Linked DNA regions of Homo sapiens. The protein of the gene in region 2 interacts with the protein of the main gene of each other region in a biochemical or structural test. Each region holds a gene or a part of one and is shown on either strand. Other genes may lie near its edges. The genes, in order: STH and PRDX6.

What was found.
Region 1: the proteins of PRDX6 (region 2) and STH form a complex in vitro, tested with the Homo sapiens proteins (one study listed by BioGRID).

Annotation. Positions count from the first base shown.
Region 1 is NC_000017.11:45,997,723-46,000,492, reverse strand, and holds STH (saitohin), read right to left. Parts: upstream 1,244-2,770; 5' UTR 1,214-1,243; coding exon 827-1,213; 3' UTR 799-826; downstream 1-798.
Region 2 is NC_000001.11:173,483,802-173,487,626, reverse strand, and holds part of PRDX6 (peroxiredoxin-6), read right to left. Parts: intron 2,267-3,825; coding exon 2,120-2,266; intron 1,373-2,119; coding exon 1,226-1,372; intron 1-1,225. UniProt on the Homo sapiens protein: Thiol-specific peroxidase that catalyzes the reduction of hydrogen peroxide and organic hydroperoxides to water and alcohols, respectively. Can reduce H(2)O(2) and short chain organic, fatty acid, and phospholipid hydroperoxides.

The DNA.
Region 1 (2,770 bases), on a different chromosome or scaffold from region 2:
GGGGCCTACGGGCTCTTCCTGCCTGGCACCCCACCCAGCTCCTCCTCCTTGCCTGCAATCTCTACCCCTACCCAGCTGGTGCTCCAGTGCGGCCACCTGATTATCTGCATTTTCCTTTCAAAATAATTCCATTTGGGGCCCCAAAGCAATCTATGTTCACTGTAGCAAATCCTGAAAACAGAGAAAAGCACAAAGAAGAAAACAGAGAAAAGCACAAAGGGGAAAACAGACGTTTTCCGTTTTTCCCCCAATGATTTGCAGCAATCTGCGGCAGTTTTCAGCCTCTGCAGGTTCCCAAACGTGACTTGGCTCCTGCTCTTTTCCCTTTGGTGTTAGCATCTGTTCCGGCACGGTTGAGGGATTCTTCAGACTCCGCCAGCTTTGCCTCTTTTGTAGCCAAACATTTATTGAGCACTTACTGCATACTGGGTACTACATGAGGCCACAGGGACCCAAAGGTCTCAGCAAAAGCTCGTGGAGCCTTCAGGCCAGTCCAGGAGGAGGAGGCCTGACACCCTTCAGCGGGTCATTTTAAAGGCTCTTGTGCATGGACCCTGTATGACATTTTTCTTTTTCTTTTTTCCTGGAGATTCATGTGTTGGTCTTTGTTATGGCTGAGGTTTAGTTTCAGACAATTTTTCTAGGCTTTCCTGGCATTTAAGGGAGGCTGTGACTGTGTCCTCTGCCACTTTTCCACACTTCGTCCCCCAAAATATCTCAAGAAAAGTCAAGTCACCCTTTCTCCTTTAACCCTTTAGTAGATTTGGACGTGCTGCCTCCACCCAGCATGGTGACGTCATAACCTGGGGCTCCCATCTGCCCCTTTCTACACTTGGCATGAGGTCGCCTGACTCTCACCCCTCATGGGCAGAGGCAGGGCAGCTGCAGGGTGGGAGGGACAGTTCTGGCCCTGAAAGGGGCCTTCAATGGAAAGTTGTCTTCCCTGCTCAGCCCCATTCCTGCTGCTCTCTTCAGAGCTGTAAGAACTGGGCCAAATGGTGCCCACACCTTCCAAGCCAACCTCAGATGAACTCAGGGTCAACAGGGAAGCTACTTCCCATGCTAAGCTGAGGGTTCTGTCTCTGGCAACCTGAATCATCCACTCACACAGAGGCTGAGTTAAATTAACCCCGCATTCAATGAGGGCCGGCCACCTGCACAGTCTTGTGGGGGCTGCAAAAATGCATGAGACTTGGCCTCCACCCTCACTCATGGCCCAGACTAGGGAGCAGCAGACACATGCTCAGTGTGGTCAGAGTTTACAGGGGCTTTAAGAAGAGAGAGGGGAATCCAGGAAGACTTCCTGGAGGAGATGGCAACTGAACTTGGATTTAAGGGAAGGGAAGAGATAAGGAGAGAAGGACATTCCCCACCATGGGACACAGGGCAGGGTATGGCAGAACCCAGGGGCCCCCAGAGGTGCATGGGCGGGGAACCCCAGACGGGGAGCAGCAGATTCAGGCTAGGGGGAAGGGAGCACCTTGTGGGTGCTGCTTGTTATGTGACTTGAGGAGATCCTGGATGGCAGTCTGGGTGCTGGAGCAGGATGGGGGTGCATGGGTGGGCAATGGGAGAAAAGGCAGGAAAGGCCAGTGAGGGCCCCTCTGGGGTCTTGGGCAGCACCAAGGCCAGGCACCCTGGAGAATGAAAGTCACGGTGGTCCCAAGATGGGGCTTCTGGAGGCGACTTTCGAGAACCGAATGAGGACTGGAAAGTCTGGAGACGAGGGAGCGCATTGTCCCCAGTGGAAGCGCAGGACAGTTTCCCTCAGCTGCGGTACAGGACAGAGGCCCTGGGTCACCTGTGAGTTATTTCCCCAAGGTCTCTAACCAGGCCACTGTGGTGGATGAGGGTCCAGAGAGCCTCTTCCACTACAAGCTCCACATGCCTGAGCAGGAAAAGGCCGGACCTTAATTTAACCCGGATCGTTTGCCATCAGGAGGGAGATTCTGAGATGTTCTCTTCCTTCCCTCCCTCCTGTGTTCCAGGGAGCTCTGCCCTTGTCCCCACAGCCACAGGGGAGCCACTGTCTGTCCTTTCCTCGATGAGAGGAGGTGCTCTGGGGCACAGCCGAGTCTTCTCCACCTCTGTGCACCGCCTGGCACGCAGGGACTCTCAAAAGAGGCCTGATGCACAGAGGCAGGGTCTACACATGCGTCCCTTTTAACCCGACCGTCCATTTCCATCCCGATGGGATGTGACACTGCACTCACAAGCTTGTTCGGGGGCAGGGGGGATCCTGGGTGGGGGGAGGTGGCAGGGTTTGAGGCAAGGTGCCCATGTGCACTGGTGGCCACCCTCCGTCCAAATGCCCCAGGCTCAGACCCAAGTGATAAGAACTTCAATGGTGTGGAGAGCGCCTGCGTGGGGGAGGCAAGCTGACACGCAGGCCCAGGGTTCCAGAAAGCCCCCTAGCTCCCCGAGGCCCAGTGCCCAGAAGGCCCAGCACATCTGCAGCCTCAGAGTGAGCTGTGGTCCTTCTCACCCCCAGCCTCCTCTTCACCCTTCCCCAGCTCCCCAGTGCTGGGTGGCGGGAGCGGGGTCCTGGGCTGAATTGTGGTCCCCGCAAATTCACATGTTGAAGCCCTAACCCCCCTCCCCAACACCCCCGTACCTTAGAATGTGACTCTATTTGGAGACAGGGCCTTTAGAGAGGTGACTAAGTGAAAAATGAGGTCATCAGGCTGGGCCCTAAGCCATGGTGGGTTTTTTTGGTTTGTTTTATTTTGTTTTGAGACAGAGTCTCGCTCTGTTGCTCAAACTGGAGTGC
Region 2 (3,825 bases):
GTGTTCTTTACTCTCCCCTCTGTGAGGATTTTGTTTTCCAAGTTGATCTTTGGCACTTTTGGCAGGAAAGCAGTTCCCCCATCTTAACAAGAAACAGTCCTGTTTTAAACCCAGTAACAGCTGGCCACCACACTTTACATTTAATTCTGAGTATCATGGCCTGCAAGCCCTGTGTGATGGAATCCTGCCTCCTCTCATCTCTTGTCCCTCACCCCACCTTCTGCAGCTTCTTCTCCAAGCATGCTAGCTTTCCTTGTATTCCTCCAACATGCCAAGCTCACTTGTAGGCCCAGTTTCTTGCACTAACTGCTCCTTCTGCCTATAGTGCTCGTCCCTCACAAGTATACATGCCTTGGTCACATCTTCTCTGTGTTTTTCTCCAAAGGTCCCTTCATAGACAGGCATTCCTTGACAGTCACTCTCCCACCCCTGTGCTGTTATTCTCCCCATCTGTGCTTGATTCTTCCCTGTAGCACCTGTTATCACCACTTAATAAACTTGTTTACTGTTTGTCTCCACTCACTGGAATGGAAGTTCTATGAGGGCAAGGACTTTCTATTATTCACTGCTATCTCCCCAGTTCACTACTATCTGGGCTCAATAAGTACATAAATAAGTAATAATAAGTTAACTAGTGGATACAGAATTTAAGTGATTTGTCTGTCAGAAAAAAACAAAACAAAACCTGCTATTCAGGTTAGCATTATTTTAAAAATGTAGCAATGTTAAGATACTCTTGTGATGTTATCCATGTCCTAAAGATGAAAAGTTTATGAACAAATTTTGGAGAATTCTAGCACAGGTTTAAAAGAATGAAGCTTAAGAGAAATTAAATACTTAATGACATTAATACACCAGTACTTTTACAGCCATGACTTAACGGAAATGGCCAATTAAGATTGTGCGATAAATATTTTGCCATCAGGGAAGGGTTAGATAAAATTTTTTTTTTTAAACCTTCTATTAGGAAAAGGAATCATTCTGACCAATAATTTTTCCAAATTATCTAAAAGTTGGAAAGCCATATAGGGAGTTTGTGTTGTGTATAAAAGGTGTTATAAAGACCTTGAAAAGGGCCTTTCAGCAAATCTTGAACTCAGCCATGAGGAAAAATCCTCCCAGTGTACTTGCGTGCTAGAAACAGGTAACACAGACCTTGAAGTTGGCCATTTAGAGACTGGCCCTTCAGGCAAGTAGAGAAACTGCTTTTTAAAAACATCTTTACCTTCCAATCAACTGGGGTGGCAACCCTTTTTTCTGCTGTCAGCTGGAGAGAGATGACTACCCTGAGAATCTCATCAAAGTTCCTGCCAGTGGTAGCTGGGTAGAGGATAGACAGCTTCAGCTTCTTATCAGGACCAAAAACAAACACCTGTAAAGCACAGAGGGGCATAAATAGGAAGAGTTCTTTGAGTGTTATTAAAGCCACTTAGAAAGCTCTGCAGTCATTAATAATGTTCAAGGGTATAAAAACAAGACAAAAACAAAGCATCTAGAAGGATACACCAACTGCTAATGTGGATGGCTGGAATACAGATAATTTTCTTCTCCCTGTTATTTTCTAAACGTAGAAGGGAATTCTATTTGGTTCTGGCTTTCCCAGTAAGAAAAACTGATATGCAAATTTAATCGAGGGAAAGGCTGTGTCAATTGGGGATGACTATCATAAAAATAATACTAATGGGAGTTGATATTGTTCCTTGAATAGTTGTGCATTTATTCAGATGAGGGATTGGGTTTGTTTTCTAGTGGGCGGAGGACAGAACAAATAAAAATTTAAAACAGAGCTGCCTTATGAAGAAGGATATGGCCCATCACTTTAAAGACAGGGCGGTCAGGAGAGCAGTCAGGAGAGCTATGAAAAGGTTTCTCAATTCTGGAAGACATTTTAGGATAAACAACTTTTTTTTTGTAGATTTCCATGAACTATGAATAAAGCAGTTGGAAAATTTAGCTGAAAATTGCATCAGCATTACAGATAATCAGTGATATTGTCGCCAATACACAGTTATTTCATAATCGTAGATATTCCCCTATCTCCTCTAGCTGGTACCAGCATTTACACGGACATACAGCCTGATCAGTTAAGCTAACTACAAAATGAATTTGTATGACCTACCACACGAGCTGTCACAGGCATGCCCTTTTCATCCTTCTCTGCTGGATCCAGCATGCCCAACAGGATGGCAAGCTCCCGATTCCTATCATCGATGATGGGAAAAGGTAACTTTTCTGTGGGCTCTTCACAATTGTAAGCATTGATATCCTGAAACACAAGTAAAAGGGGAAAGAGGAATCTAAACCCAACACATGCTCTGAATTTCATCAGTTAACAGCCATCACCTTGCAAGACAGGAAAGAGGACCAAATCACAGTAATTTTCTTTAAGCAATTTTAATTTTAAAAAGTGAGTAGATGAACACTCTTCATTCCAATTATTGCCAGGAATAACAGCAGAGTACAGTACTTAGGTTGTAATCATGGACCAAAGCTGTTTTCATGCCCAGTTCTCTTAAATTCAGCATGCTTTTACTGCTATGAGAAAATAGCAGCAACCCCTTTAAAATTGCAATAATTTAGTTAGATCCAAATACAAGGTACCTCTGGGTACCCAAATACTGTAAAAATCATCAGATAACAATAGGTTTGTTAAATCCATCACATCTAGAAATAATGCCATATGTAAAGAAAATCTTATAGATCTGGTCCCTACCTCATAAAGCACCCTGACTCAGATGCTAAGTTACAAGACAAATAAGAAATGACCAAAAAAAAAAAAAACAAATCACAAAACAAAGCAAACACAAGAATGGAGAGTTGAATATATACTTGAAGGACAAGTCAAAAATAAATGGGTGAAGAGGCAGAAGTAAACCTAAACTAGGGTGAAATTCAAAGAGAAAACAAAGCATTTCAAGTCTGAACTAAAGAAAAATGATACACTTCCCTCCTTCCCTAGTAAAACTTTATTCATCCATTTATTTCTACTTTTCCTATCCCTGGAAGCTTTTGGAGAAAAAAAAAATCTAGTTTTGTTATTTGATTAAGCATTGATATAGCACTTAAGGTGGGCTAAGCATTATGGTAAATACATGTGGAATACAGATGAGTAAGACACGGCTCCTCCCTTCAAAGGAACTTCTCATTTGGTTAGAGATGATTCCAGTATGAAGCAGCAGCAAATGCAAGACTAATGTTAAATGGTGGATGGTAAATACTGAAGTATACGAACACTCCCATTTGTAGGACTCCAAAAGTTACAAAAGGCTTCAAGAAAAGAACAGGACTTCTATCTAGGCCCTTGAAGGATGGGTAAGATTTTTCACAGAGAAAAGAAAGGCATTCTAGGAATCAGGAACTATATATATATATGCACACACACATATATATATGTGTATATATATTATATACGTGTGCATATGTATATATATGTATGTGTGTGTGTGTGTATATATATAAATATATATATATATAAATATATATATCTAATTTTTTTTTTTTTTTTTTTTTGAGACAGAGTCTTGCTGTCGCCCAGGCTGGAGTGCACTGGTGCGAACTTGGCTCACCGCAACCTTGGCTCACTGCAACCTCCGCCTCCCAGGTTCAAGCAATTCTCTGCCTCAGCCTCCTGAATAGCTGGGATTACAGGCACCCGCCACCACACCGGCTAATTTTTTTTTGTATTTTTAGTAGAAACGGGGTTTCGCCATCTTGGCCAGGCTGGCCTTGAACTCCTAACCTTGTGATCCACCTGCCTCAGCCTCCCAGAGTGTTGGGATTACAGGCGAGAGCCACTGTGCCCGGCCAGGAACGATATTAATGAAA